Linked DNA regions of Homo sapiens. The protein of the gene in region 4 purifies or fractionates together with the protein of the main gene of each other region. This does not show direct contact. Each region holds a gene or a part of one and is shown on either strand. Other genes may lie near its edges.

Region 1 (7,029 bases), on a different chromosome or scaffold from region 4:
TCCCTGAGGTCAAACAGCAGCGCTCAGGTCAAACCTGAGGTCAAACAGCAGCACCGCCCTTGGCTGTGGGGGCTGGGGTGCACCCCCAGGCCTCTGAGAGTTGGAGTCCCCACCCCTCTCCAAGGGGAACGATGACTCTCTCCACAGGGCTGATGAAAGCTCCCAGCAGGACCACACGCCTAAAGATGCCTCTTAGGGACGGGTCAAAGAGGACGTGGAGGAAAGAGAAGATGGAGGGGGCCTCTCATCCTGTCCATGTGCGGCCATGCTCTGGATAGAGGAGCTGCCACAGTACCCACTGCAGAACCCCGCGGACCTGCCCTGGACTCTGCCGCGTGGGCCATGCCTCCACACGGTCAGGGCAGGGGCCGAACAGGAGCAGGCCAGAGCCACCCTCGCACTTCCCCACCAGCCAGGCGGCCCCTCACCTGGCCAGATTCTCCGTCACTCTCCGCAAGGCTTCCTGCTTCTTGGCCCGGTTCTTGGCAGCGGCCTCGTTGGCCATCTTCAGACCCAGCCGCTCCCTGCGGCCTGGCTCCAGGATCTACAAGGTAGCAGGTGTGTGGGTAGCTGCGCCAGGCCTGCCACACGCCAGGCAGCCCCTCACACAGAAAGCCACTGTGGTGGGTGCCAGCCTCTCTTTGTTGCCTACAAAACCCCCACAACCCATCACCTCCCACTAAAAGCCCCTGGAAAGCCCCAAACCCCACCTGACCTGCCCAAGGCGCAGCACTCCTCACCTGTCTTCGTGTTCCTCCCAAAACCATGACCTCTGACAATCTCTCAGGAAAAAGCAGTCTGTTTTAGTGTTTCCCTGATTATCAGAGTGAACATCTCTGTCTTTATCGGCGCTCTGTATTTCGGGCGCTTCCCCGTGTGCCTGTGGCCTATTTTGCTCTCAAGGGGCTCATTTTCCTTTTCTGCTGCTGTTACTCAGAAGACCCTTGCCAAGACCTTGTGTCAAGTCAACTGTGCTACGCTGTGCACATGTTTTTTCACTCATTTACATTTGTTTCATTTATAACATTTTCTGCTGTATTTGTTATTTTCATTTGTGATTTCTTCCTTTGCTTTTATGTTTAGAAAGTCCCTCCTAACTTAAGATTAGACTACAGGCTGGGAGTGGTGGCTCACACCTGGAACCTCAGCACTTTGGGAGGCCAAGGTGGGAGGATCACTTGAGCTCAGGCATTGGAGACCAGCCTGAGCAAAATGACAAGACCTCATTTCTACACACACACACACAAAATTAGCTGGGCATGGTGGTGTATGCTGTTAGTCCCAGCTACACAGGAGGCTGAGGCTGGAAGGTCATTTGAGCCCAGGAGCTCAATGTTACAATCAGCTATGATTGCACCACTGTTCTCCAGCCTGGGCAACAGAGTGAAACCCTATCTGTTAAAAAAAAAAAAAAAAAAAAAAAAGAGGCGAGGCACAGTGGCTCACGCCTGTAATCCCAGCACTTTGGGAGGCTGAGGTGGGTGGATCACGAGGTCAGGAGTTCGAAACCAGTCTGGCCAAGGAGTTCGAGACCAGTCTGGCCAACATGGTGAAACCCCATCTCTACTAAAAATACAAAAATAAGCCGGGCGTGGTGGCACGCGCCTGTAGTCCCAGTTACTTGGGAGGTTGAGGCAGGAGAATCACTTGAACCCAAAAATCAAACTAAATATTCGCCACTATTTTCTAGTCCCAGTTACTTGGGAGGTTGAGGCAGGAGAATCACTTGAACCCAAAAATCAAACTAAATATTCGCCACTATTTTCTTCTGGTTGTTTTATGGTTATTGTTTTTACATGTAACCTTTTCACCTTTCCACAATGTATGCTGCTACACATCCTGAGGACCCAGCTCCCTTCATTTCTAAATACTCTGCTATTCAGTGCAATCTGAGTTGCCATCTTTATCGGGCCCCAAATTCTGACTTGGATCATGGTTTGTTTCAGAATTTATCTGTTTACTGTTGGCCTGGAGACTCGGGAAGCAGTGGCAGGCATACCTCAGAAGCACCTCAGCCCTTGCCTTGCGCTCTCACATTGGACAGCACGGCATCCTCTTCATTATCCCTCTCGCACGTTTGCCTTGGTTATCCTTGTGTCCCAGACAATTTAGAACCAAGGTAACCAGAACCTCTCCCCATGTTTTGTCTGGACATGGGTTACCTGTACTAAGTATTCTGGGGAAAGGCCCGCAGTGGTATGGGGAGGCCTGTTGTATCTGACCCAGCCCACGAAGAGCCTCCCCTGGTCTGTGCCGGGCCTCACACACTCCACCCTGACCACTCCTACAACACCAGGCTTGAGCCGTGTAATCCAGCGTGTCCCAATCGTGTTCTGTAACCAGGGGCCTTCTCTACAAGCACACAGCCTCGTCCTATGGCCCTCAGGCCTGCAGAGCTCCTCACGTGTCTGTGACCATCCTGCCTCATTCATGAACAGCACCCGGCCTCCAGGATCCAGAGGGCCCAAGCCACTCCCTGCCTTGGTGTCTCAGCCCTTACACCCCCAAATCCCTCTGTGACAGGTCCACCCACCCACACCTGCCTTCAGCACCCTGGCATTCAGAAAAGCCAGCACTCTGCCCGTCAGCAGCTGGGGGCCGATCCCAGTGCTCAGTCCTGAGCCACAGGCACTCAGGGCTCCAGAGGTGTCCACCCCGGTCGCACACAGTTCCCCCATCACCACAACCCACCTTAAAAGCTGGGCCGGGTGTCCTGTCCACGTAGGGCGTTTCCGACCCTTCAACTCTCAAGGGTGTGTTCTCAACCTCCCCCCAGGTCATCATCGGGGACTCGTTCACACCTGCAGACAAAGAGCCCAAAACCACCTCAGGCCAGAGGACTCCCCACCACCCTCCCCTCCAGTCACAGCTTGTTCACCCAATGTGCATCCCAGCTAATACGAAGGCAGGCAGCTAGCCCTCTCTCCTTCCCCAGGACTCTGGAACCCTGGCACCTCCATCCTCCGAAAGGGAAATGCCAAGCTCCCAGCAGGCCCGAGGCAGGCTCAAGGCCCTACAGCCATGTGCTTAGCCTACAAGCCTCTGGGAGGTCTCCCCCAGCCACGCAGGAGGAGACACTCAGGCCTTCCAGGGCTCCCAAACCTCCTAGAACCCCAGGCAAACCTGTGGTGCCTTCACATGCCCTGGCGTGTGACACAGCACCAGCACCCAAGAGCACAGAGGCCAGAGTGCAGAGGGACACCCACGCATGCCACAAGACCACCTGAGTTTCACCTCCACTGAGGTGCTGGGCCTCCCTCCCTGCAGTGCTAGGTAGACTTAGACTCATAAGCACTGTGCACACACCCCCACCCACTGACATCACAGTAAGGACCAGGACAGGACACGTCATCCCAGGATGTCTCAGGCCAGGTCTGCCTGAGAGTCCAGCCCACCCACGGCCCCAAGCAGCCTGGACACCTGGCCTCTAGGGCCTTGTACAGACAGGAGACCAGGTCCCTGAGTTACACAAGGTGTGGGGCAGGCCAGGTAGAGGCCAGGAGTGGCCAGGGCCGACTGAGAAGCCCACCTCCCCCAGGGAGTCCCAGCAGTAGACCCACTTGCCAGTGGGCACTTTTCTCACCAGGGGCAGGGGAAGGAGTGGCAACAAATCCAAATCCACCCACTCGAGGGGACTCCTGGGGGATCAGCTCCTTGCCATCGGGGCCCACCTTGCCCTGTTTGTGCTGGAACAAGCAGAGAGGCTGGCATCAGGGGGACCGCAGCCCACGCTCGACAGCTGGCCGGTGGGCAAACACGTGGGAACATGCTGGAAACACTTCCTCTCCTCAGGGCAAGGCTGGGGCTCTGGGGTTGGCAGCCTTCTTGGAGAAAGAGAGGGAGGGCCCCTGCCCCAACCCCCCAAAAGACCTTGAGGGCCTGTCAAAGTGGGTACCCAAGCAAGGAAAGCCCCCTCCTCCCATCCAGGGAGGTGCCAGGGCCTCCACTCGAGCTGCGCCTATCCCAGCAACTCCAGAGGATGCTGACGCCAGGCCCCTGCAGGGGGCAATGCTGATGACAGGCAATGCTGATGACAGGCAATGCTTATGCTCTAGTCTCTTCCTGCCTTCCCCACTTCAACCCTGTGACTGCCACAGTCACCATCAGAGAGTATCTACTCGTCTTGCTCCCAGACTCAGAAAGCCTCTGCTCTCTGCCAACCCAGGGCCTGTCCCACCCCAGCCACCCCCTGGGGCTGGGCTCCCTCTGCGGCTCTCTGGCTTCCCTGCCCGGTGTGTGGGCGTGCAGCTGCCAGCCTGGGCTCACTCCCAGCAGTCCCTTTTCTCTCCTGCCCCTGCCATCAAGGGAGCTGGCACAGATCTGGACCTACAGAACGTGTGTGACCAAGGCAGTGTTCAATGGAAGCCCACTGGGGCCAAGGAAAGACTCAGGATCCTGCCGCACAGGGCCCCAGATGGTTCCACTCACTGAGCTCTGCCAAGCTCAAAGAGATGGGAGAGATCATGCCTGCCCCCAGGCAGCCCTGTCCAACCTGGCCCATGCGGCCCTGCTGACCCGCCTGCTCACCTGGGCATTGAGGGCGGCTGCCTGCTGGAGCTGGCACCTGCTCAGGGCTTGGCTGAAGGGGTCCCTAAGGAAGCGCGTGTTCTTATGTACCACCTGCCGGGGCTTCTTAAACAGCTGCTCCTCGTCAGGGACACCTGGCAGACGAAGCAAAGGTAGCAGCAGGTGTCAGAAGGGCAGCAGCCTAAGGAGCATGAGGAGCTCGCTTCTCGGCCAAGTCACTCCCAGATGAACAAAAGCATTGAGCAGAACGCAGGCCCCAGTGCCGCTGGAGAGGGTCTCACTCACTGCTGACCTCACACAGACCTGTCCACCCTTAGACAGACCAGTACCCATCAGAAGCCCAAACTGCAAGGGGGCACGGCCATACACACCTGGAAGGCTGCTCCAAACACAGCCAGACACACACAGCTCTACCCAACACCTCCCCATTTGGCTGCGAGGCCCGCCACTTACCCTCTGGATAGTACATGAGGGAATTCTTGGCCTTGTACTTCCAGGTCTCCACACTGGCCTGGCTGCTCTCGATGGCCTGGTGCTCTGCTGACGGGAGTTCGAGATTATCTTTCTGCCTCTGCAATCACATGGGGAAAAGTGATGGTCAGAGATGCCCCTGGGCATTGTACCCATGGCCCTGGGGCTCCCCAACCACCACAGAGGGTGCCTACGCCTATGTGACACCCCAGACCCCAGAGACACCTTCTCAAACTCTTCCTCAGCCTGGTAGAGCCAAGCGTGGCGTGCCCGGCTTCTCTCCTTGGCCACCTCCATGATCTCCTGGAAGGAGGCATTGTCCTCACTCGTGTAGCGGCTCAGGAAGACATCTAGGCTGGGCAGCGGCTCCTTCTCCTCCTCCTCTCCAGCCTCTCCTGCTTAGGGGTTGCGGGAGGAGGAACACAGCACCCTTTGCAGTCAGGAAAGAGGAGGACACCCAGGCCCAGGAATCATAGCCCCCAACATGCAGGGCTGGAATCCTCTCCCCTGGTCCTGGCTTCTGCCCATGAAAGCCCACACTGCCAAGGACTCCCCACGGGGGCAGAATCCACCCACCCTGACTGCCCAGAGAGCCCTCAGGTGGTACCCTACAGATTCAGGGCCAGCTCTGCTCATGTGCTGGATGCCAAGGGAATTACGTGGTCTGATTCAGACTGGAGAAAGCAATACAGGTGTTAGAGCAAGAGCTCGTGATCACAGGCAGGCTCCTCCCCCACCAAAGTGGTGCCAGGCCTGTGGGTGCCAGGCCTCCAAATCCCTGGGGCTCTCCCTCACTCCCTAGGATTTCCTTACCTTACCCACTCTTCTCTTCCTGGTACCTGTACTACAGGTGGGTGGTCATCGCCTAATCATCCTGACCTGAGAGCGAGCCCCAATTCCAGGGATCTCATATGACTTAGTCCTCTGGATGGGGCCTCACAGGTGCTAAGCCACAACCCCAAACACCCCCCCCTCCGACCAACCCTGCCACCATGGAAAGTGGTACTCCCACTGAGGTGGTGCCCTGGTGCTGCGTGTGGTGGTGCAAACTTCGGTGGGGCCACCTGGAGAGCTCTGCCTTCAAGTCTAGTGACAGTCCTGACCACCTGCTACACGTGAGGCTATGCACAAGGCACAGTGGCTACAAGCTCAAGACCCACGGGATGAGGACAGGGGTCAGAAACTCTATTCATCTCAGAGAGATAAGAAGTGAAACCCTGACCATCTCTGAGACCTGCAGAAGTGACTGCCTTTCTGAGCCTCAGTTTCCTCACCTGTAAACATGATGATGGTTCCTACCACTTAGGTTCTGAAAAGGATTCCTATATTTACTGGCATGTAGGTGTACAGGTATTGAAAATCTGCAAACTGGCTAGGCATGATGGCTCACACTTGTAATCCTAGCACTTCGGGAGGCCAAGGTGGGAGGATCACTTGAGCTCAGAAGTTTAAAACCAGCCTGGGCAACATAATGAAACCTCATCTCTATAGGAAAAAAAAAAAAAAGGAGAAGAAAAAAATCTACAAATTGCCCTGTGATGCACAAGCTACATTTCAACAGATAATCAAGCTTCAAGGACAACAAGGACTGTGTTAATGGCCGAAAAAGCTGGATTGTAAAGCAAAAAGTATCATGTTTGCATGTTTGTGCAAACACACAACACATCTGTGCTACTCCAGCACAGTGGAGTCTACAAACTGATAAGAAAGAGTGTCTCGTTTGTCTATACATGCACTGACATTCTACTACTGATGAAAAGAGGGCCTGACAACGCAGAAGTCCCATGGCGTGCAGAACACTTGCATTCAACAGGACTCGGAGTGCCCTTTCCTAAACCGACTCCCCCATCAAGTCACGATGTTACCATATAGAGCTGTGTGTCCCAGCAAACATGCTGAAGATGACAACTCTTTCATCTGTTCCATGTGTATCTGTGCAAGGCCCACAACACCACATGTGCTGTTCCCAACACGGAGCATACAGATGAAAGCAAAACAAAGCTTCTGCTCTTGTGCAAGGGATGCCAATTA
Region 2 (6,089 bases), on a different chromosome or scaffold from region 4:
TTGAATTGTTTAAAGTTGAGATTGCCTGATTTGCTTGTCTAAATGCTGTTTTTCCAAAAGTGCAATTTGGAATATGGCCTGAAGAAGTGTTCTATATATTTTCCTTTTCTTTCCTCCCCACCCCCAAAACTCCTTTTCCTTTCTTAAATTTAGCCTTAGTTTTGAGCTGTTCTTTGTTAAGTACAGTTTTTGTTTGGTACACATTTGTCCATGTTTCACAGATGAATATGCATAAGCTTTAGAAACAGAAATATTTATAACAGGTAGATTACAACTTTTTGATACTATCTTTATTTAGCTACAGCTCCTTCTATTCACATCTGGGATGCAATGAACAAGCAGACTTTATCTATCCTAAGATGCTACCATTCAAAGGGAGTATGTTCAGTCAGCTTCAGTGCTACTGGCAAACTATTGCTGTCTGTGGGACTAGACCCAGAACATACTATTACCATTTGGAGATGGCAGGAAGGTAGGATTCTTTTGTGTGTTTGATTTTTAAAAAAACAAGAATACAAAGGTAGTAGGAATTCTGTATTTAATATTTGTCTTAAAGTTGGTGGTTGAAACAATCATTCAGTGGAGGCCTATGCAATATACTGTACACAGTGGTACTGTAGGTATATTTCACTTTAAAAGCCCAGTGGAACTGTAACCTCACAAAACAGATAAATTAATGAAACCATTATTAGCATTATAAATGATTCACTGCTATTTTCTTCCAGCAAGAAACTATGTATTTATTATTAATGATTTGATTGGTTTTGGAGATTCTTATGAAAATTATGTATATTTCTAATGATAATGGCAGATCAGCAGGATAATATTACCTACCACACTTTAGACAAAACATTTACGTTATATAAAGAAAAGTTAATGGAGCGAAGATAAGTGAAAAGGACTCAATACACAAATAATTGTAAATCATGTATTGCTAGGTAGTAGAGCAGGGGCCATTGGCCTCTCTTCTAAGCCTTTGTTTTTTGAACTATGTATTTTACATATTTGTTTGATGCTGTTGATTAGCTTGGTTCTTGTAATAACCTAGATAATTTTGTTGTATCTTGTCAGGTGCCAAAATTGCCAGCAGAGCTGGTCACAATCAACGTATTTTTGTGGCAGAATTCCGACCAGATTCAGATACCCAGTTTGTCTCAGTGGGAGTAAAACATGTGAAGTTCTGGACCCTGGCAGGAAGAGCTCTTCTTAGCAAAAAAGGGCTACTGAGCACACTGGAAGATGCCCGGATGCAGACCATGCTCGCTATTGCATTTGGTGCAGTATGTCTCTTAAAATGCACATAGTGTGACTTTGACTACTTTACATTCTCTTGCCTTAGATCATCAGCCACATGAATGTTGTTGAGATGATACTGTGATCTGCTAATCATTACATGCCCTGGTCAAGCATATATTTCATCTTTCAAAAATCTAGTTCTTTCAGAAATTAGGGAGTGAAAAGAATGTTAATGAGAGGGGGAAAAGGATTTTTTTTTTTTTTTGACACAGTATCTCACTCTGTCGCCTGGGCTGGGGTGCAATGGTGCGATTATAGCTCACTGTAGCCTCCATCTCCCAGGTTCAAGTGATCCTCAGCCTCCTTAGTAGCTGGGACTACAGGGCAGGAACCACCATGCTAGGCTAATTTTTCTTTCATTTTTAGTAGAGACAGGGTTTCGCTATGTTGCCTAGGTGGTCTCAAGCTCCTAAGCTATGTGATCCTCCCATCTTGACCTCCCAAAGTGCTGGGTTTACAGGCATGAGCCACCATAATAAGGATTCTGATGAACATTTGATTCCTTGGACTACTGTTATACTCAAAAGCCTTCCTTAATCTTCTAATTGTCACCCTAAATATCCTAAAATTTCTGTCTTCCTAGTAGTTCTTCATAGTCCTAAAAATTTGTCAGAGAGAAAGGTAAATCAAGAAACATGATTTTCAAATGATTTAAGGTGGTACTAGGGTTTAGGATTTCCTTTGCTTTTTATCATTTAACACACTGCTTATCATACAGCTGGAAGTGCTCTGGGCCAGTGTCTCTACTTCGAGGGAAGAAGGAGGTAGTGAGACAGAAGGAAATAGCACAATTCCTGGCCCTGACAGAAGGGTGTTCAGGAGACCTGCTCTCCTCTCACTTTATTCCATCTCATCTGGACCTGTGGCTTCCAATCCACATCTCTTTCCTTTAATATCCTGCATTGGCTAGGCTGTATAAATCCTTTGGTGCATCGAAAAACTAAGTGCATTTTTTGTTTTTGTGATTATGCAATACTTATAGGAAAAGTTATAATTTTAGAATATTTAAGTACACTTACATTTTTGAGAAAAAGACTATTGAAATGTTTGTGCCATGTCAAATTTCAGTTGAACATTTTGGGTATTCTTAATATAAGACCAGGCCAGGCACCGTGGCTCAGGCCGGGCACAGTGGCTCACACCTATAATCCCAGCACTTAGGGAGGCCAAGGCGGGAAGATCACCTGAAGTCAGGAGTTCAAGACCAGCCTGGCTAACAAGGTGAAACTCTGTCTCTACTAAAAATACAAAAATTAGCCGGGCGTGGTGGCTGGCGCTTGTAATCCCAGCTACTTGGGAGGCTGAGACAGGAGAATCACTTGAACCTGGGAAGCAGAGGTTGTGGTGAGCTGAGATCGCACCATTGCACTCCAGCCTGGGCAACAAAGAGCGAAACTCCGTCTCAAAAAAATAAAAAATAAACCCTAGAATTATAGTATGTTAGAATTGGAAGGGAAGAATTGTCTAAGGTTATTCTAGCTAATAAGCAACAGACTTGGAAAGGAAAAGGTCCTGACAAAGCTAAGCCTCCCGTTCAGGTTTCCTGACTCGTGAATTCAGTGCTGCTGCCACTACACGATGCATGCTCTTTGTATCAAGGGTGAGACAGCATTACACATACATAGAAAATTATCTATTTAAACTCTATTTGAACTTTTGATGAGTTTGTCTCCCCCTCCCCCACTCCTTTTCAGAATAACTTGACGTTTACAGGTACCATCAGTGGTGATGTCTGTGTGTGGAAAGATCACATATTGTGTAGAATCGTGGCGAGAGCTCACAACGGGCCTGTGTTTGCCATGTACACCACCCTGCGAGATGGACTTATCGTGACTGGGGGAAAGGAAAGGCCGTGAGTCCTCTTTCTTTTCACAGAATATTTATGCATTTGTGACCTACCTGAGGTTTGCAGTTAATTATTCTAGTTGTTTCTAGGCTACACAGAGTGTCCTCTCCGACCTTCCTCCTCATATGCTTCTCCTTTATTACCTTTTATGTGCCTTCTATTTGATTCTCATTTCTGGTCTTAATTCACTTCCAATTTTTTTCATGTTGGGGTGATACTTTTTCTGAGGTGTGGATAGGTAGTTGTCCTACAAGTTGAGTTACTTTTCTTAATGTCTGTATGCCTGTGTATGATTTGCTGAGTAGGAGGCCCATGGGGGAATCTGGAGCCAGGGTTGTATTTTGACTGCCTGCTCTCTTTTTGTTCAGAATGGATTCTAAGGAGTAGAATGCACATTGTTGCTTTAGAAAAGGATGAGGGAACTAGAGAGAACTGCCTTGTTTCCTTTTGCTTGAGGCAAATTTAAACTGTTTTATACAAGACCTCAAAATTTGAGAAGAGGTCTCTTCTGAGTGATTTTCAAATCTCCCAACAGTAACCAGATACTTATGATTTGATTTGTCACCAACATAGTCATATGCATGTTGAAACATGACATGTAGGCCAGGCACAGTGGCTCACACCTGTAATCTTATCACTTTGGGAGGCTGAGGCAGGTGGATCGCTTGAGCCCAGGAGTTCAAGACCAGCCTGGGCAACATGGTGAAACCCCATCGCTATAAAAAACAACAATTAGCCGGGTGTGGTGGCACATGCCTGTAGTCCCTGCTACTCAGGAGGCTGAGGTGGGAGGATCACTTGAGCCTGGGGAGGTCAAGGCTTTAGTGAGCTGTGATGGTGCCACTGCACTCCAGCCTGGGTGACAGAGTGAGACCCCATTTAAAAAACAAAAACAAAAACAAAAAAAAATGTGACATATAGTTGACTAAGAAGTACATTTCAATACAGGATTGAAAGAACCCACATATGTTAATTAAACACAAGCGCAGAATTTGTGCCTTTTACATAAAGGAAGAATGCACATAGGCATGCTTTCAGACAAGCAATTCATCTAGCAGAAAAGGAAGGAATACATTTTTCAGCCCTTCCAGGAATAAAATCCATAAATGGGCTCTATTTCGTCCTCCAACACTTGTATTTCCCACGTCATTTACTCCTGCACACCCCCACTCACTAGAAGCCTGCTAAACTGTTCCAGTGAGATATTTTAACACCTGATAGGGAATAAATATGCTTCTGTTTTGGCCTTCAAAAATAAGCTCTGGGCCAGTTGCAGTGGCTCACGCCTGTAATCCCAACACTTTGGGAGGCCGAGGTGGGCGGATCACGAGGTCAGGAGTTTGGGATCAGCCTGGCCAATATGGTGAAACTCCATCTCTACTAAAAATACAAAAATTAGCCAGGCATGGTGCCTGTAATCCCAGCTACTTGGGAGGCTGAAGGAGAAGAATCGCTTGAACCTGGGAGGCACAGGTTGCAGTGAGCCGAGATCACACCACTGCACTCCAGGCCAGGTGACAGAGCGACACTCTGTCTCAAAAAAATAAATAAATCAACTCTGTAGCATAGCATTTGTAATTCTATTATTTTGCCTTACATTTCCATTATCCTTTTAATAAAATTGTTTTTTTACATCTTCCTAATCAAGAAGTATTATGAGGCCAGGCACAGTGGCTCATACCTGGAATCCCAGCACTTTGGGAGGCCGAGGCAGGCAGATCACCTGAGGTCAAGGTATTTGAGACCAGCCTGGCCAACATGGTGAAACCCCATCTCTACTAAAAATACAGAAATTAGCTGGGTGTGGTGGTGCACACCTGTAATGCTAGCTACTCGGGAGGCTGAGGTAGGAGAATCGCTTGAACCTGGGAGGCAGAGGTTGCAATAAGCCTAGATCATGCCACTGCACTCAAGCCTGGGAGACAGAGCGAGACTACATCTTAAAAAAAAAAAAAAAAGTATTATGAGAGAGGATAATGTATTGTAATGTATTGTAGAGGCTAAATAAAATTATGCTCATGTCAGAAAAAAAGAGTATTTCTCAAAATAAAATTCACTGAAACTGGATGTTTATTTTGACTGAGATATAGTATATCCTCAAATTGCCATAGAAAGTTTACAAGAATATTAGAGGTAAATTATAAATATCAGGGCCTTTTTAAAAAAAAAAGATTCTGCTTATAACTTGGTATTTGTTTATAATAAAAATTATAGTAGCCAATAATGAACACTTACTCTGGCTTGGTTATTTACTTAGGTCAAAAGAAGGAGGAGCGGTTAAACTGTGGGATCAGGAACTGAGGCGGTGCCGTGCCTTCAGGCTTGAGACAGGACAAGCCACAGATTGTGTTCGTTCTGTGTGCAGAGGCAAAGTAAGATGTTCCATGAGCTGATACAGTGCAGCAGAAAACAGAAAGTGGTTATTACTGTGATTCCCTCACCCTTTGCAGCCTAATGAACAATACTTAATAATGCATAACGATGGATTTGCTTGCCAACATTACTCTGTCTTTGCTGCTTTCTTTGCCAAAGTTAGCACCAGTGTGGTGCATAAGCTAGGAAGCTATTCTGTCTAAATACTGTATGTAAACCTCCAATATTTTCTAGAATCTGCCAATTTAACAACTCTAGTAGACATAATTGAAAGCCCTTGGCAGTTGACTCATATTAGGACAGCTGTCTCCATTTTTTAAAAAAACACACATTCCCTAGATAAAACGTGCAGTAAACAAACAATGAAATACTACTCAGCCATAAAAAATAATGAAATTCTGTCATTCTTGGTGGCAACATGGATGAGACTGGAGGACATGATGTGAAGTGAAATAAGCCAGGCACAGAAAGATAAATACATGTTCTCACTCCTGTGCAGAAACTAAAAAAGTTGATCCCACAGAGGTGGAGAGTAGAATAGTGGTTACTGGAGGCGGACAAGGGGGAGGGGGAG
Region 3 (7,029 bases), on a different chromosome or scaffold from region 4:
CATCAAACCTAAATATCTGATGTAATATAACATTAGAATAAGCAACACTGTAAATGCTAAGCTATTCTTTACAGTTTTAGATAATCACTATGTATTTTCCTAAATATAACTAATTATTAACAGGTACATTCTAGAATACTTACGATTTGTTTTGGTGAATATGCATTTCCTTCTACAAGTCAAAATAAGTATGAGAGCCTTAAGCTCCATCTTTTCACACGAAAATCCAAGTTTATTCTGAATATAGCTGAATAACGATTATGAACTGTGAGGATACCTGAGTATTTGGCTTCATTAAAAACATTTAAAATGACTGGGGCACTATTAATACACCAAAAGAGTCAACTTTATCTTACGAAAGAATAGATTGTGGACTATTCAAGTTTCTTTTTATCTACCATTTAATAAAATTCATTCACACTTGGAAAAAAATTATCTGTGGCTATCATTAATCATGCTATTTTTTCTCCTTTATCAGTATACAGAAGTCTGCTGTAATTTCCTTGGGATACAAATTGTCCAACACAATTATACTTAACATAATGATTTTATTACAGCTGATAGTAAGGGTAATTGATATTGTATGAACAGCGAACAGAGTAAATATGAAGGTTTTTCATAAAAATGAAGATGTACAAAAAATATGTTACCATGTAAGATTGTCTTCTCCTCCCCAGGTTTCTCTTCTTCCTGTTTTCCTTTTTTCTGCCTCTTTGCTGTGATTTCATCCAATTCTTTTTGCTCTTCCTAAGAAAATTAAGGAGTGAAATTTAAAATGAATGTTCTAGAACCTCATTATACCTAAAGTTGGTTATAAATTCTTTATAATGACTTCTACATATCTGGTCCGAGTATGTTCCCAGGATAACAAGCTCAACACTTTTTTTTTTTTTTTTTTTTTCTGAGATGAGTCTCGCACTGTCGCCCAGGCTGGAGTGCAGTGGCGCGAATCTCTGCTCACTGCAACCTCCCTCTTCCTAGTTCAAGCAATTCTCCTGCCTCAGCCTCCCGAGTAGCTGGGACTACTCGGTGCACACTACCACGCCTGGCTAATTTTTTCTGTTTTAGTAGAGACAGGGTTTTACTGTGTTGCCCAGGCTGGTCTCGAACTCCTGAGCTCTGGCAATGCGCCCGCCTCGGCCTCCCAAAGTGCTGGGCTTACAGGCCCGGCCAAGCTCAAGTCTTCTATAAGCAGAGACTGATTACCTCTTCCACAAATTATGAAATGGTACTAAATACATAATGGATACTAGATAATACTTTTCAACTATATAAAATCAGTTTTCAAAACTTATCCTTCTGTGACACCTAGAAATAAATTTTAACATGTTATACTAGTTATACAAGTAAAAAGACAAGGCAATCAGAAAATCTAGTTTCAGAATGGAAACTGAATTTTAGCACATAATGTTGTTTTTCAGTTAATTGTTTTTACATACTCCTAAGGATATAAGTGATAGCTATACATTTGTGACACAATTTTTTTGGGAGGAGCTGGGGACAGAAGATGGGGTAGTAGTAAATCTCTATCTATAATAACAAGTCAACAGATAAAATCTAAAATAAAAAATAGTAGAATAAGTTTATTCATCTTAGATATCACCTGTTTATTTCTATTACTATAAACATGGATTTACTGGATGTAAGTAACAGCTAGAATATAAGCTTCATGAGGTCATGATTTTCTTGATCTTGTCCACTGCTGTATGCCTGGGACCTAGAACACTCTCTGGCTCATGGAGACAGTGAGATTAGGAGGTGAGGAAGGGAACGGCAGAGCATTTACTTTACAAACTTTATAGTAGTTTTTAAGATATATATAGAGATAAAATTTGTTGAAAATTTTAAATAAATTCATAAATCAATAAAATTTATAATCAATTCTAGTGTCACAGAAGGCTGATTTTGTAGTTACTATCTGAATGTCTAGTATCAGAAGAGTAGCTACCATGGCAGCTTAATAGCAATATCAAGGAAATCTTTATGAAAATTGTTCAATATTGTATTTTAATAAAAAAGCATGAGAGAAAACAAATCAGCAGAAAAGGTAAATAAAAATATCCCAAAGAAAAACAAATAAATTTTATTGTATATTTTCAATCAACTAAAGGCAGAAAAATTTTGATGAGTCATTTGGTTCTCTAAAGAAATCTCAAGTTTATTAATGTAGATATCCTTCATAGAGATACAGCGTATACCTGAATTGACAATTAAAAACATCAAAGCTTACTTCTGAAGGTTTGGCTACATCTTTTTCATCCACATATTTTGCCCATGGTCCCAAAAAACCATCAATATTGGATGCATCATTTTCTTTAAACTTTTTCCTCTTTTCTGTTTTCTTCTGACCAGTTTCAAATACAGTTAAACCTACGTTAACAAAAAAAAAATTAAAAAAAAAACTGAGAGATTACAAAGATGTACATTTTCTAAAGAAATATGAACATATGTTTAATTTTATTTTATATGGTTAAAGAAAGATGATTGTTCAAGTGACCCCAGAGTTATTAAAAAACAATCTACATGAATCTACCATATACGCTGACTCATGCTACAGAAAAAGGGATTCAACCTTCTGGGCAAAGACACTTAAAACTAATTCAATATTCTGCAAATTCTAATACTGTATACTTAAAGAAGAGACCCAAATATGTACTCCTACAATGGCGCACAAGCCTTTTATTGAATCAAAAAGCTGTGTCAGTGGATTTGTACGACTTTCTGGAAAAAACTCAGAAACTCATTATTGCTAAGTAATAATAAAGTGACATTTGGAAGCAAGAATAAACTGTAATTTATCATTTTAAAACTAAATTAAACTAAATTACTGTAAGTACTTAATAACTTATCTTCACTTCACTTGTAATGCAAAAATGTAAATCAAACAAGGTTTCACCAGAAATGGTATTCCTTCCAAGTGATTTCAGTCTCATCTTGACCTCTAATATCATTAACGTTAACAGTAAAAGAAAAGGAGAAGGAGGGTGTTTCTGGTTGAGATTTTGATTTGATTAGTAGGAGGTGGCATACTGTGTATAGTCATTAACTTGGAAAAAGAAAGGTTTGTGGAATCATAGTCACAAGTTAACTAAGAATCTAGCTACCTTTAGATGGGACTTGCAGAGGTCTAGCTTAAAGAAGAAATGTCTACCTATATTAATTCAGGCTATGTTTTATAGCAAAAGCCTGTTAAAATTCTATTTTAACAATAATCTAGCTCATATACAGAGACCAGCCAGATCACATAGGATCTATAGCTACTAAGCACAAATGTCCCATGCAACCAACCAGCAAATTACTTTTTAAATTGCATTTTATGGATAATATTCTAATGGACTGATGAGGCTTGTGACAAGTTAGCGTTTAGCGTATGATGTTTTGTCTTATTGTAAGTACAAAATGAATATGAATACAAGCATACATACAACACATATTCAAACTCAACCTTCAAAGCAACTCTTCAAAGACAATCTTCACAGACTTACCAAATAAAGTATTTCTACTCTGTTAAAATGAAGCTTGACATTAATGTTGAGAAATCAATTGCCAAAATTATCTATACATTAGTTGTAATTTATTGAGTGATTTCTACAGGGTTGGCATGGTGCCAAGTACTCAAAGTAACTCAAAGAGATATGTATCATTATTTTCCCTACAAGATTCCACAACTAGTAAGCGGCAAAAGCAAGCTCTAAACTGTAACATTTCTGAACTATATTGCTCTAAACTGTATCGCTCCATTGTTTCAACTTTAAAAAAAAAAGCGCTAAATACTATTTTTTACTGTCTAATTAAAGTCACTCTGCAAGACACTAATTATAGATGTGTAGGTATATATGATATCAAATGTTTCAAATAAATTACCTTGATTTTTTTCAGCTTCTTCTACAGAACCAATATATTTAGCAGACACTTGATGATTATCTAATGAAGGGTCTAATGCATAACCTGAAAGCAAAAAAGTGAAAATTATTAACTCCATTTTGCTGTTTAAATTCATTTTATTATTATAATACAAATATACACATTTCACATTTTCTTTCCCAGATGTCAAAAATGATCTCTAACTCAGGACCAATCAGGACCAATCATTCTGCCCTGAGCTATATTGCTTCCTTTTTTTTTTTTTTTTTTTTTTTGAGATAGGGTCTCACCCTGTCACCCAGGCTGGAGTGCAGTGGTGTAATCTCGGCTCACTGCAACCTCCGCCTTCCAGGCTCAAGCAATTCTCCTGCCTCAGCCTCCAGAGTAGCTGGGATTACAGGCATGCGTCATTACCCCTAGCTAACTTTTGTATTTTTTTGGAGAGATGGGGTTTCACCATGTTGGCCAAGCTGATCTTGAACTCCTGACCTTAAATGATCCACCGCCTTGGCCTCCCAAAGTGCTGGCATTACAGGTGTGAGCCACCACTCCCGGCCCCTGAGCTATATTTCTATTTAGAACCCAAAGCTATATTTTTCTATTTAGAACCCAAAGCTCAGGCTAGACTCCAGCATAATATGTTTCTTATAGGATGAATTTTGCATACTGACATTACATTACTAAGAGCCTCTCTGGCCAACACATCAAACTTTAGTTTTAAATATTCTAAGAGCTTGAAAATACATGTACATGATGCACTTGGAAATCTAGAAACCATTTTCCTTTTCTTCTTGGTAATAGATATTGCAGGGCTAAGTTTATCAAATTATGTAAATTATTAAATAAAAAAGGGTAAGAAGATTACATAAAATCTAGCTATTATTTTGAAAATACCATTTGCAGTAAGGACAGTCTTCCTTCCCAATCTTAATATATTTCTATTTCATCAATCATTCTTTATATTTCCTTAAGAGAAGGAAGGATATCTACCAGCATACGAATGTGCTTTTTAAACTAATTATAAAGTATGTAGCTACATATAAATGTGGTCTTCAGTGGTCCATGGGAATTTAAGGAAAGAAAGTCTACCTAAGTTAGCTCAAATCAGTTTTTTTCTCAAATGGGTGTGCTAGCACAGTAAATGTTTGGTAACATTAGTCTGGTATATTCACAAGAGTGCTAAATCACTGATCACTTTATGGCCTACAACTCATGTGTACGATAATAGAATACATAAAAAAGTACTAAGCCCATTTTTTCTAAAGGGCACATCCTAGAGGATAGACTTATTATTTTCATTTTTCATCCAAAGTAGTCCCAGCTACTCGGGAGGCTGAGGCAGGAGAATGGTGTGAACCGGGGAGGTGTAGCTTGCAGTGAGCTGAGATCGCGCCACTGCACTCCAGCCTGGGCGACAGAGCGAGACTCCATCTCACACACACACACAAAAAAACAGAATATAGGGAACTTCTTTTGGGGAACAGAAAAAGATTCATCATGAAGCATGCTTTTCAAACAAGCTAAGGATGTAAGTGCTGAACTCACCCTCATGATATGCTATAACAGAACCAACCACCTGGCTATTAGCTGATTTGCATATAGTTTTTTTCAGCATTAAAATATGTTCTTAACCAGAGGAGAGAGCTTGGTGGCAGAAAATCAGCCTTTGGAGTAGAATCTCTGAAATCACAGGTTCAAATCCCATGAGTTATTTTGTCTTTAATCTCTTTGATGTACAGAAGTGTTCTGCACATAACTTTTTCCAAAAAATGAGACTTTTATAAGCTCATACCATGTTAAAAGTTTCCATTTCAATAATAAAAAACGTATCTAGCTAGAATGTAAATTTCTACTTTGAAAGGAGACTTAACGTCTACATAAATAGCATTTCATGACGCGTCTGGAAGGGTGAAGGAGTAGACAGAGAGGGAAGAGGTATCCCTGGTCCTTGTCTCTGTGTAAGCACCATTCCCCAACTCATCTGGCCACTGTCTTGTTACTCAGAAAAATAAGTTATGCTTTCCTCTTGCTCCACATCCTCTGTGGTAAAAATCTTTACTGCCATACCACCATCCCCACTACTGCCTTCCACCCCAGGTGATTAGAAAACAGTATTATTTTCCTTTTACAAATAAGAGTTAAATATTTGGCCTTATGTCTTACTACAAATCAGCCAGTGATAGAACAAGATCTAATTCTAACACTACTAAATTTCAGTCCAATTTGTTTTCTCACTATCTTGTGTCTCAAATAAGTGAATATTTCTACATTTCTTAAATATTCTTATCTATCTTCCTGAAGCTTGTTTTCCCTTTTATCTTTTTAATGGAATTAATGTCTACTTTCTTCCCTTCGGCAGTCTTATTTGAAATGGCCATAATATTGATTTTATTATTATACCCTTAAGATTATTAAACTAATAATAATTATTAAAACTAATTCCATTAGGCAAATGAAAAGAGACTATAAACAATTTGCAAAAGAATGGTCATAAATATATGAAAAAACCTTCGACCTCACTAGTAGTCCGGAAAAATCAAGTTGCAATAAAGAAATATAATACTTTGATTATCAAGTAAACAAAGGAAAAACAATCATATGGATCTTTGATGAAGAGAAATAGGGCCGGGCATCGTGGCTCAGGCCTGTAATCCCAGCACTTTGGGAGGCCAAGGAAGGCAGATTACTTGAGGCCAGGAGTTTTGAGACAAGTCTGGCCAATATGGTAAAACCCCATCTCTACGAAAAATACAAAAAAAAACATTAGCTATGTGTGGTCGTTCATGCCTGTAATTCCAGCTACTCAGGAGGCTGAGGCATGAGAATTGCCTGAACCCCAGAGGTAGAGGTTGCAGTGAGCAGAGATCCCACAACTGCACGGCCTGAGTGACAGAGCGAGATCCTGTCTCAAAAAAAAAAAAAAAAAAAAAGAGAAATAGGACTTTTATACACTGTGGTGGTAGAGTAGGTTGAGAGAATTCTTTTGGAAAGCAATTTGATAATATATACCAAAAGCTTTTAAAACACATATTCTTTTACCTACGTTTGGGAACTCATTTAAGAAAATAGTATAAAATAATATAAGAACATGTAAAGTTTTATGTACAAAAATATTCACTACCATGTTTTAAAATGCACTTTGTAGCATAACATACATCACATTTT
Region 4 (6,955 bases):
TCAAGTATATTTATCAGGAAACACCTCAGTGATTTCTTTTGTACACACCCTGTCACTATTGCAGGCTACTGTATCATAGAACTATACTCCATGTATTTAATTCAAAATAAACATATTGATACAATAATACTAGTAGACATTAATTTGTTCTACATTAACTTTCTAGAGAATAGACATTTTATTAATTTAATATGGAAATAAATATGAGTGTACCTAAATCATAATAAACCTTAACGTATTATGTATTTTAGTCTACATATCAGAATTTTTTGAATTCCATTAATATACAATGTGAAGAGTGAAATAAAACACTTGGGCCTCTTCGAGGGTGGAGGGTAGGAAGAGCGAGAGGATCAGGAAAAATAACTAATGGGTACTAGGCTTGATACGTGGGTGATGAAATAATCTGTATAACAAATCCCTATGACACAAGTTTACCTATGCAACAAGCCTACACTTGTACCCCTGAACTTAAAGTAAAAGTTAAAAATATATTTAAAAAAACAGTTGAAATATATTAAAAATTAAATTACACAGAAATTGTGGTAGTGCTTCTTGCTTTATTTTACTCATGACATATTATAATGTTAATATTTGTTTTCATATATTTTCTTTGGTTATTTGTACACATTATTTCACATGTCTTTGTCTTGGTATTTGTAGTTTCTCCAAACAAAAGTATTGGAAAAAATGCTATCAGACGTTGAAAGAGAAGTATCAGTAAAGTATAGTAATAGGCAGAGACAGGACAAATAAGGAAAAAAATTAATCAAAAATAAAATTCATAAAGTTATGAAAAAAATTAGCAAGCAAAATGAAAGAAAATGATTTGAGGGTACTGAATGTAAAAGTATGCATTTAAACCATGATATTATAACCTAATTTCTAAGTGTATATTTATATTTTATATATATATATATAGTTATGGTTCATATATCTTCAATATTTTCTTATGGAAACAAACATTGAGATTACATAGCATAAATTTTAAAATAGATTTTTTTCCTCAGTTACCATCATTTGTTTTATCTTACATTTAGTGTACTTTTCAATTATACCATGGCTTAGCTTGGAATGGACATGAACAGTTTACATGAAAACTTTGTTTTAAAAAGTCTCTGTAGTCAACTCCTGAAGACGTAACCACGATAACATGACCACATCTTTTGTACAGATTTTTCGTTAAGAAAAATTTAACCCCCTCACTTCTGCATTTCGTTTATTTTCTTCAGGTATTTTATAGAATCAAAAAGGTGAATATAAATATGTGTACTACAATGGTTATTTGTGGCAATAATAGGACTAAATTAATTCTCACAAATCTATTTTAGATCTACTGAATTTGAGCAAATCATGCCTTTGTTAATTGGCTTTGATGACATTACTGAAGAGTATTCAGTATCTTTGATGTATTTTTTGAATTTTTTTATTCTAGCTGTAAAACCAGATATAATTTTGGTTCAATCCTGTTTTTCCTGTGTACTAACAATAGAATCATGTGCAAATTACTCAAAATCTCTGACTTTATTTTTCTAATGGTTAAAATGAGTATAAAGTCAATGTCATGGAGCTGTTACAAAAATTAAATGAGTGGCTATACTTTCTAAATACCAGTTGCCTCAACCTGACTTTGTTTACTCTTGTTTATAATGCAGTGATACAACCCAAAAAGATGAAAATGGCACACTGGAAATAAACGATAGTGGAATATTTTGAGTACTCTAATGTAATTATATAAGTAAACGGGAAAAGTGCAGGGAGGATATTGATGTCTTGCTTTTCTTCAGCAGAGCTGCATTAACATAAAGGGGAGTCATTTTATTGAATAATAAAAGACTGACAATCACTGTGATTGGCTGACAGCCATTAGTGCAGTGTAATTCTAAATAGCTTGTTTTTCAAAGTTCTTCTTGAATAACTCTTCCCAGCCTGGTTGAAAGGTTCAAAACTCATTTTTAAAGTGAAGTTTTTCACATTTGAATACCACTGTGATATGAATGATGGAAAAAGATATGCATTAAAATATTTTCTTCTTAAATGTTTAGAATCAGATATATTTTCAAATGGAAGAGAAAATGTGGAAAATTTAACAAACTAAGTTTTAAATCCTAGATAAAATTAATTCAGGACTTGTGGAAGAAAAAGATCACGTGTAAAGAGATCTTACTTAATAAAATAAAATAAAATAAGTCCAACATGTTTTACAGCGAGAGCACAATATTTGATCTGTATTAGCCAGCTTAAAATTCTGTGATTTCCGAGTAGAACTCAAGGCTTCCAAAGTTATCAAATCCACTTTGATGTATTCATCTCTCTCTGTCAGTATTCCTAATCAACAGTCCTCCCTGGAAAGTATGTATAATAAGTGGGTGTACAGTTGGCAACTCACCAAAATAAATATTTAGTGATATTTTAATGGCTATTTTAAATCTCTTATTTAAATTGCGGATTAAAACTTTATTTGGCCAATGAATTCTGAGCACAATGTTTGAGGACCATATTTGCTACTGAAGCTCTGTGTGAAGGATGTGTACTTAATTTTCAGAATGTCGAGGTTAGATCATCTCTGATGGAGGCATTTTATATGAAACGTCAGCATTGGAAACATTGAGATAAAGATCGGGAGCAGGAATCTTTGAACTGCAGAATTGTGTTAATTGCTCATTCTCAAATATAGAGACGCCAATTAATTCCACACAACCTAGATTCAAAGCAGCACAGGGAAATGGTCCTGAGGTGAGTATTGTACAAAAATGAAGAAAAATAGATGTGTTCTAGCGTCCACAAAGCTGATTCTTCAACAGGCAGTAATAGAAGCCCAATGCACCCAGCGATTGGCTGATGGCATCTTTGTTCAGGCGATCGATGAGCGCCCTAACCCACACGCTGGGTGGAGAAATCCCTCTGCCACCCTCACCTTCAGAATCCACTGCTCAGCCACCTGGCTCCCGCGGGGTGCGCCACCGCCTCACTGCTGGTACACGTCTCCCCCTCTCGACCGCCAAGTGCTTGCTCCCTCCAGGCGAGCACTCACACAATGGACTCACTTGTTTCCCATGCCCCTCTCCTTTGACTTCCAGCCTCAGCGAACAACTTGAGCAAGAGTCAAACAGGAGTCTCTGCCATGGAGCATAGACCCTTGGAGCTTTCCAGACCAGCTCAGAAGCACGGGCGCACACACAGACAAAACAATGCCTTGTCCACGAATGAATAAAGGACACCCATGCCCCCACCCACCGCTCCGCAACCCGCAGAAAGAAACCCGGGACGGGGTTTCCTAAATAAGAGATTTTGTTGTGTCTTTCAAACTGCAAGCATTCCCCTTGAAGACGGCGAAAGAGAGGCTGTGCGTTCAGATGGCAATAAAGATTGACAGTGGCTTTGCCCGTGACAACGCCCCCAGCATCGCGCTGAGCCAGGTTCCCTGAGAACCGGGAGGGGGAAACGCAGATCTAGGGAGGAGGGAACAGCAGAGGCAAAGGCAGCTTGGGAGGGATGGGAAATGGAAAATCAGGGAAACAAACAAACAAACAAACAAAATGAATGAGTGAATGTGGGCTTGAATAGTAAAACTTCCAGAGAGAAGACGATGGGATCTCTCCCCAGGTAACTACCTGTAGATGAAAAATAGATGAAATACACAAGGAAGTGGCAAGCAACAACTTTGAGGTGAGCAGCAAGTTGTGCACCTCCTCTCAAGGCGCTGGATCAGCACCCCTGAGCTGCCCCCACAGCACACACTCCCAATGCGAGGCGGCGGCGGCAGCAACAGAGGCAGCAGCAGCAATCGCGGCAGCAGCGGCAGAGGCGGCGGCAGCTGCGCGCCTCGGGCCCAACCCCGCTCGGCTCCCCCTCTCGCCGGCGCCCTGCCTGTCTTGCGTGTGCGTGTGCGTGTGCTCAGCCTCAGCGTGAGGGGCACCTGCTCGTCTGGGCTCACAGCGAAGGCAGCCTCGCCGCGAGCTGCCGCTGCCGCTGCTGCCGCCACTGGTGTTGCCGCTCTCAGGCGCCAGGCTCCCCGTCGCCGCCGCCGCCGCCTCGCCAGCCAGAGTTGGGCTCCGTGGGCTTCCCCCCTCGCAGCCTCGGTCCTTCCCCGCTGCCTGCAAGTCAGCCTGGCTCCGAGTCACGTGTCAGTGCCTGAGGCAGAGACTGCGAGAAAAAAACGCGCTTCATTCCTTCTTCCACCGCCATACTGTATTTTATACTAAATCTCATTTTTATTCCAACATTTTACTCCCGCTCGGTGAGTACCTTCTCAGTGGCATTCTTGTCCTATTCTTTTTTTTGTCCTTTTTTTTGGTTTTTTGTTTTTTTTGTTTTTGTTTTTTTTCTTTTTTTCCACTTCTTTGATTATTGTTTATATTTGGGAAAGCTGGAGGAGCATGGTTTTGAGCCTTTTCCTGAATCCAAGTTTTTCTAGCATGCGATCGTTCTGTAGACAAGGCGCTGTGTCTCGGAGTCCGCGGCGACCGTGCCCGCTGGGAGCGTCTCCCAAGTCCAGCAAAATGTGCAACTGGTTTTATGGAAAAAGCGATGTGAAGTATGGTGCCTATTTTTTTCCTTTGTAAAAATAAAAAGCATGTTTCTAACTCTTTTTTTGCATACTCTTTTTCTGATAACATTTTTGTATAGGTGGGATTTTACGGCAGTGTTTACAAGTTTGTGGTCTTGCAATACTGGTGCAAACCACTGAGCAAAGACATTAATTTTATATTTTTTGTGCCCTTTTTGGAAGCCGGTGAAAACAAATTCGTTTTTTTTCCCTCCTGTTTTTGATACCCATTGATAACATGAAACTTTTCTTACAGCTGGTGATTGGGATCATTTTTAAGCAAAATACTTTTTTCCTCCTTTAAATTAACTATGACTTTTGCACATTTGACTTTTTTAAAAAACCGAGATAATTTTATGATAGATATCCTGATATCTATATCTATATTGTCCCTTATTTCTCCCCCTTCCCTCCCCGTAAATCAATTTTCAAATGATGGCAGTGGAAGGTTTTTCTGGAAAAAAAAAAATGAAGTGCGGTTTGGTTTCCTTGTCAACGGAGGATGAAGTGAACAGCTGAGCAGCTCGCAGAGAGCAGGTACTTGGTCCCCTTGGAGGCGTTTCCCGGGTGTGCAGTGGCAACACTGGTCCTAGCAAAGAAATGTGTGAGTGTGAGTGTGTGTGTGTGTCTGTGTTTGCGCGCGCGCATCTCCGGGCAGTGTCCGAGCCCGAGGTGGGGAGAGCGGCGCAGGGAGCCAGGGAAAACCAAAGTCCGTTCCCTGCTTCAGGATCGTTTTCTAGATGTGCGCAAAATACAGTCCCCTCCCCCCACCCCTCCCACGGTGAGCTGCGCCCAGGTCGTCTCCCGGCGGGGCGGGTGGCGTCTGCGCTGCGGGCCGCGCCGGCCGGGCACTAGGCGGCCGGCGGGCCCTGTAAGTTCTCCGAGGGCCACTTGCACAGCAGGAGGGGCGAGGGCCGTGTACGTGGCGCTGGCCGTCGGGCGGGCTAGAGGGGACCCTCAGAGCACCCGGGAGATGGGGGTAGAAGCGGCAGAGACCGCATATTCCGGAGGGGCTGGCTCCAGGCCACGCGAGCCGGAGCTGGAGACATTTCCAGAGCCTTGAGGATGGCACCGGCCCTCGCACGCTCAACTCCTGCTCCTCCTCTTCGCAATGAGTAAACGACGCAGTAGGTCCTACCCAGCCTATTTTGCTTTACCAAAGGGCTTTGCTTTCTTAGGGATGCTGTCTTTGGATCTTTTTTTTCCCTGTTGTGTTGCGTTGGTTTTAAGTGCCTGCTGGTGTCGTCTTCCAGGGGATGGGGAAATAGTTTCTTATAAGATGATCACTTGGGTTTAATGTTGAGGACGACGCTGTTAGTTTGCAGTAATGACCCTACACCTCTAAGGTATTAAAAAAATGCCTTTTATTTAAATTTTGTTAAAGGGGCAGAGTTTTCCCTCTTTTTAACCACCTGATACTGGCTCTAAAGGTTTTCCCCTGAGAACTGTGTACAGGGCAGGAGTGAGGGGTTGGTGATAGAGGTGATGATTTCGTGTGTTGGTAGCACTGACGTATTCAATGTTGAATGTATTCTATGATATTTTATGATTATCCTGTTACATGTTTTCAGTATAATTTAGCATTACTTTTCAGAGACGTACCAGTTGGCAATAAAAAGCCTTTTCTGTATTTAACACTGTGACCGAATCTGCTGGAAATTTTTCTGTCCAAATAAATTTCCTGAAGGCATACATCTTAAAATCTGGAGAGTCACCATTATTTAAATACTTTGATTTTGAAGCTTTGATTTTCTTACCTTTTCCCCCCTTAAATGAAAAGCTTAGCTTTAAATTACCATGTGTATATACTTTGAATTCTGTAAAATAAACATAAAGCAAATGAAACAACAACTTTTTACCTCTCAGATGAAGTTTTCTTCTAGGTAACTACAGAAATAAAAACTGACTGCAACATACAGAGGGGCCCATGACAAAGGGGTTTATAACATACACTGGCTTTTTCAAGCAAATATTTCACTGTCTGTAACCTCAGTTTGTGGAATGAAAGGTTTTACGCCTTAGTTTTTACTCTTTGTGGTCAAAAAGTAAGGCGTGCAATGGGCCATTTAACTGTAGAAGATTAAAAGTTAGTGTAATATCTGGAAAGTTGTATATATTTTTTATTCACAACTCATGCAAGTATCTCAAAAGTCTTTGGACATTTCATTGTATTTCCTGGCGGGGAAATACAATGTATGTGAGTTATTTTGTTCTCCGAGTAGCTTTTCTCTGTGAAGGAAATCCTGTTGCATTTATATAAAGAAGATAGTTTATGTCACTGTCTGTGGACACCATATTTGATATCTTGAGGTGTATAGTTCTAAGATTTGAAGCCAATATGATGGCACTAAGCCTGAAATTAGGATTTTCTTATTTTGTATAGTGAGCTAATTACTAAAATACAGT

What was found.
Region 1: the proteins of RALYL (region 4) and ESS2 purify together in Homo sapiens (affinity purification with mass spectrometry; 3 studies listed by BioGRID and IntAct, with this or other methods). This does not show direct contact.
Region 2: the proteins of RALYL (region 4) and ZC3H14 purify together in Homo sapiens (affinity purification with mass spectrometry; 3 studies listed by BioGRID and IntAct, with this or other methods). This does not show direct contact.
Region 3: the proteins of RALYL (region 4) and CDC40 purify together in Homo sapiens (affinity purification with mass spectrometry; 3 studies listed by BioGRID and IntAct, with this or other methods). This does not show direct contact.

The regions. Positions count from the first base shown.
Region 1 is NC_000022.11:19,134,632-19,141,660, forward strand, and holds part of ESS2 (splicing factor ESS-2 homolog), read right to left. Parts: intron 5,397-7,029; coding exon of another isoform or gene 5,394-5,396; coding exon 5,224-5,393; intron 5,099-5,223; coding exon 4,981-5,098; intron 4,662-4,980; coding exon 4,528-4,661; intron 3,849-4,527; coding exon of another isoform or gene 3,789-3,848; exon of another isoform or gene 3,687-3,788; coding exon 3,584-3,686; intron 2,802-3,583; coding exon 2,692-2,801; intron 2,316-2,691; exon of another isoform or gene 1,708-2,315; intron 1,629-1,707; exon of another isoform or gene 1,578-1,628; intron 545-1,577; coding exon 429-544; intron 1-428. UniProt on the Homo sapiens protein: May be involved in pre-mRNA splicing.
Region 2 is NC_000014.9:88,622,029-88,628,117, reverse strand, and holds the end of ZC3H14 (zinc finger CCCH domain-containing protein 14), read right to left. Parts: 3' UTR 5,515-6,089; coding exon of another isoform or gene 5,400-5,514; 3' UTR 3,149-5,399; coding exon of another isoform or gene 2,991-3,148; 3' UTR 1,281-2,990; coding exon of another isoform or gene 1,072-1,280; 3' UTR 522-1,071; downstream 1-521. Other genes in the region: EML5 (echinoderm microtubule-associated protein-like 5), read left to right, coding at 299-472, 1,072-1,280, 2,991-3,148, 5,400-5,514. UniProt on the Homo sapiens protein: RNA-binding protein involved in the biogenesis of circular RNAs (circRNAs), which are produced by back-splicing circularization of pre-mRNAs.
Region 3 is NC_000006.12:110,204,425-110,211,453, reverse strand, and holds part of CDC40 (pre-mRNA-processing factor 17), read right to left. Parts: intron 3,949-7,029; coding exon 3,865-3,948; intron 2,371-3,864; coding exon 2,231-2,370; intron 748-2,230; coding exon 651-747; intron 1-650. UniProt on the Homo sapiens protein: Required for pre-mRNA splicing as component of the activated spliceosome. Plays an important role in embryonic brain development; this function does not require proline isomerization.
Region 4 is NC_000008.11:84,179,339-84,186,293, forward strand, and holds the start of RALYL (RNA-binding Raly-like protein), read left to right. Parts: upstream 1-3,935; 5' UTR 3,936-5,086; intron 5,087-5,332; exon of another isoform or gene 5,333-5,660; coding exon of another isoform or gene 5,661-5,676; exon of another isoform or gene 5,677-5,845; coding exon of another isoform or gene 5,846-5,895; intron 5,896-6,955.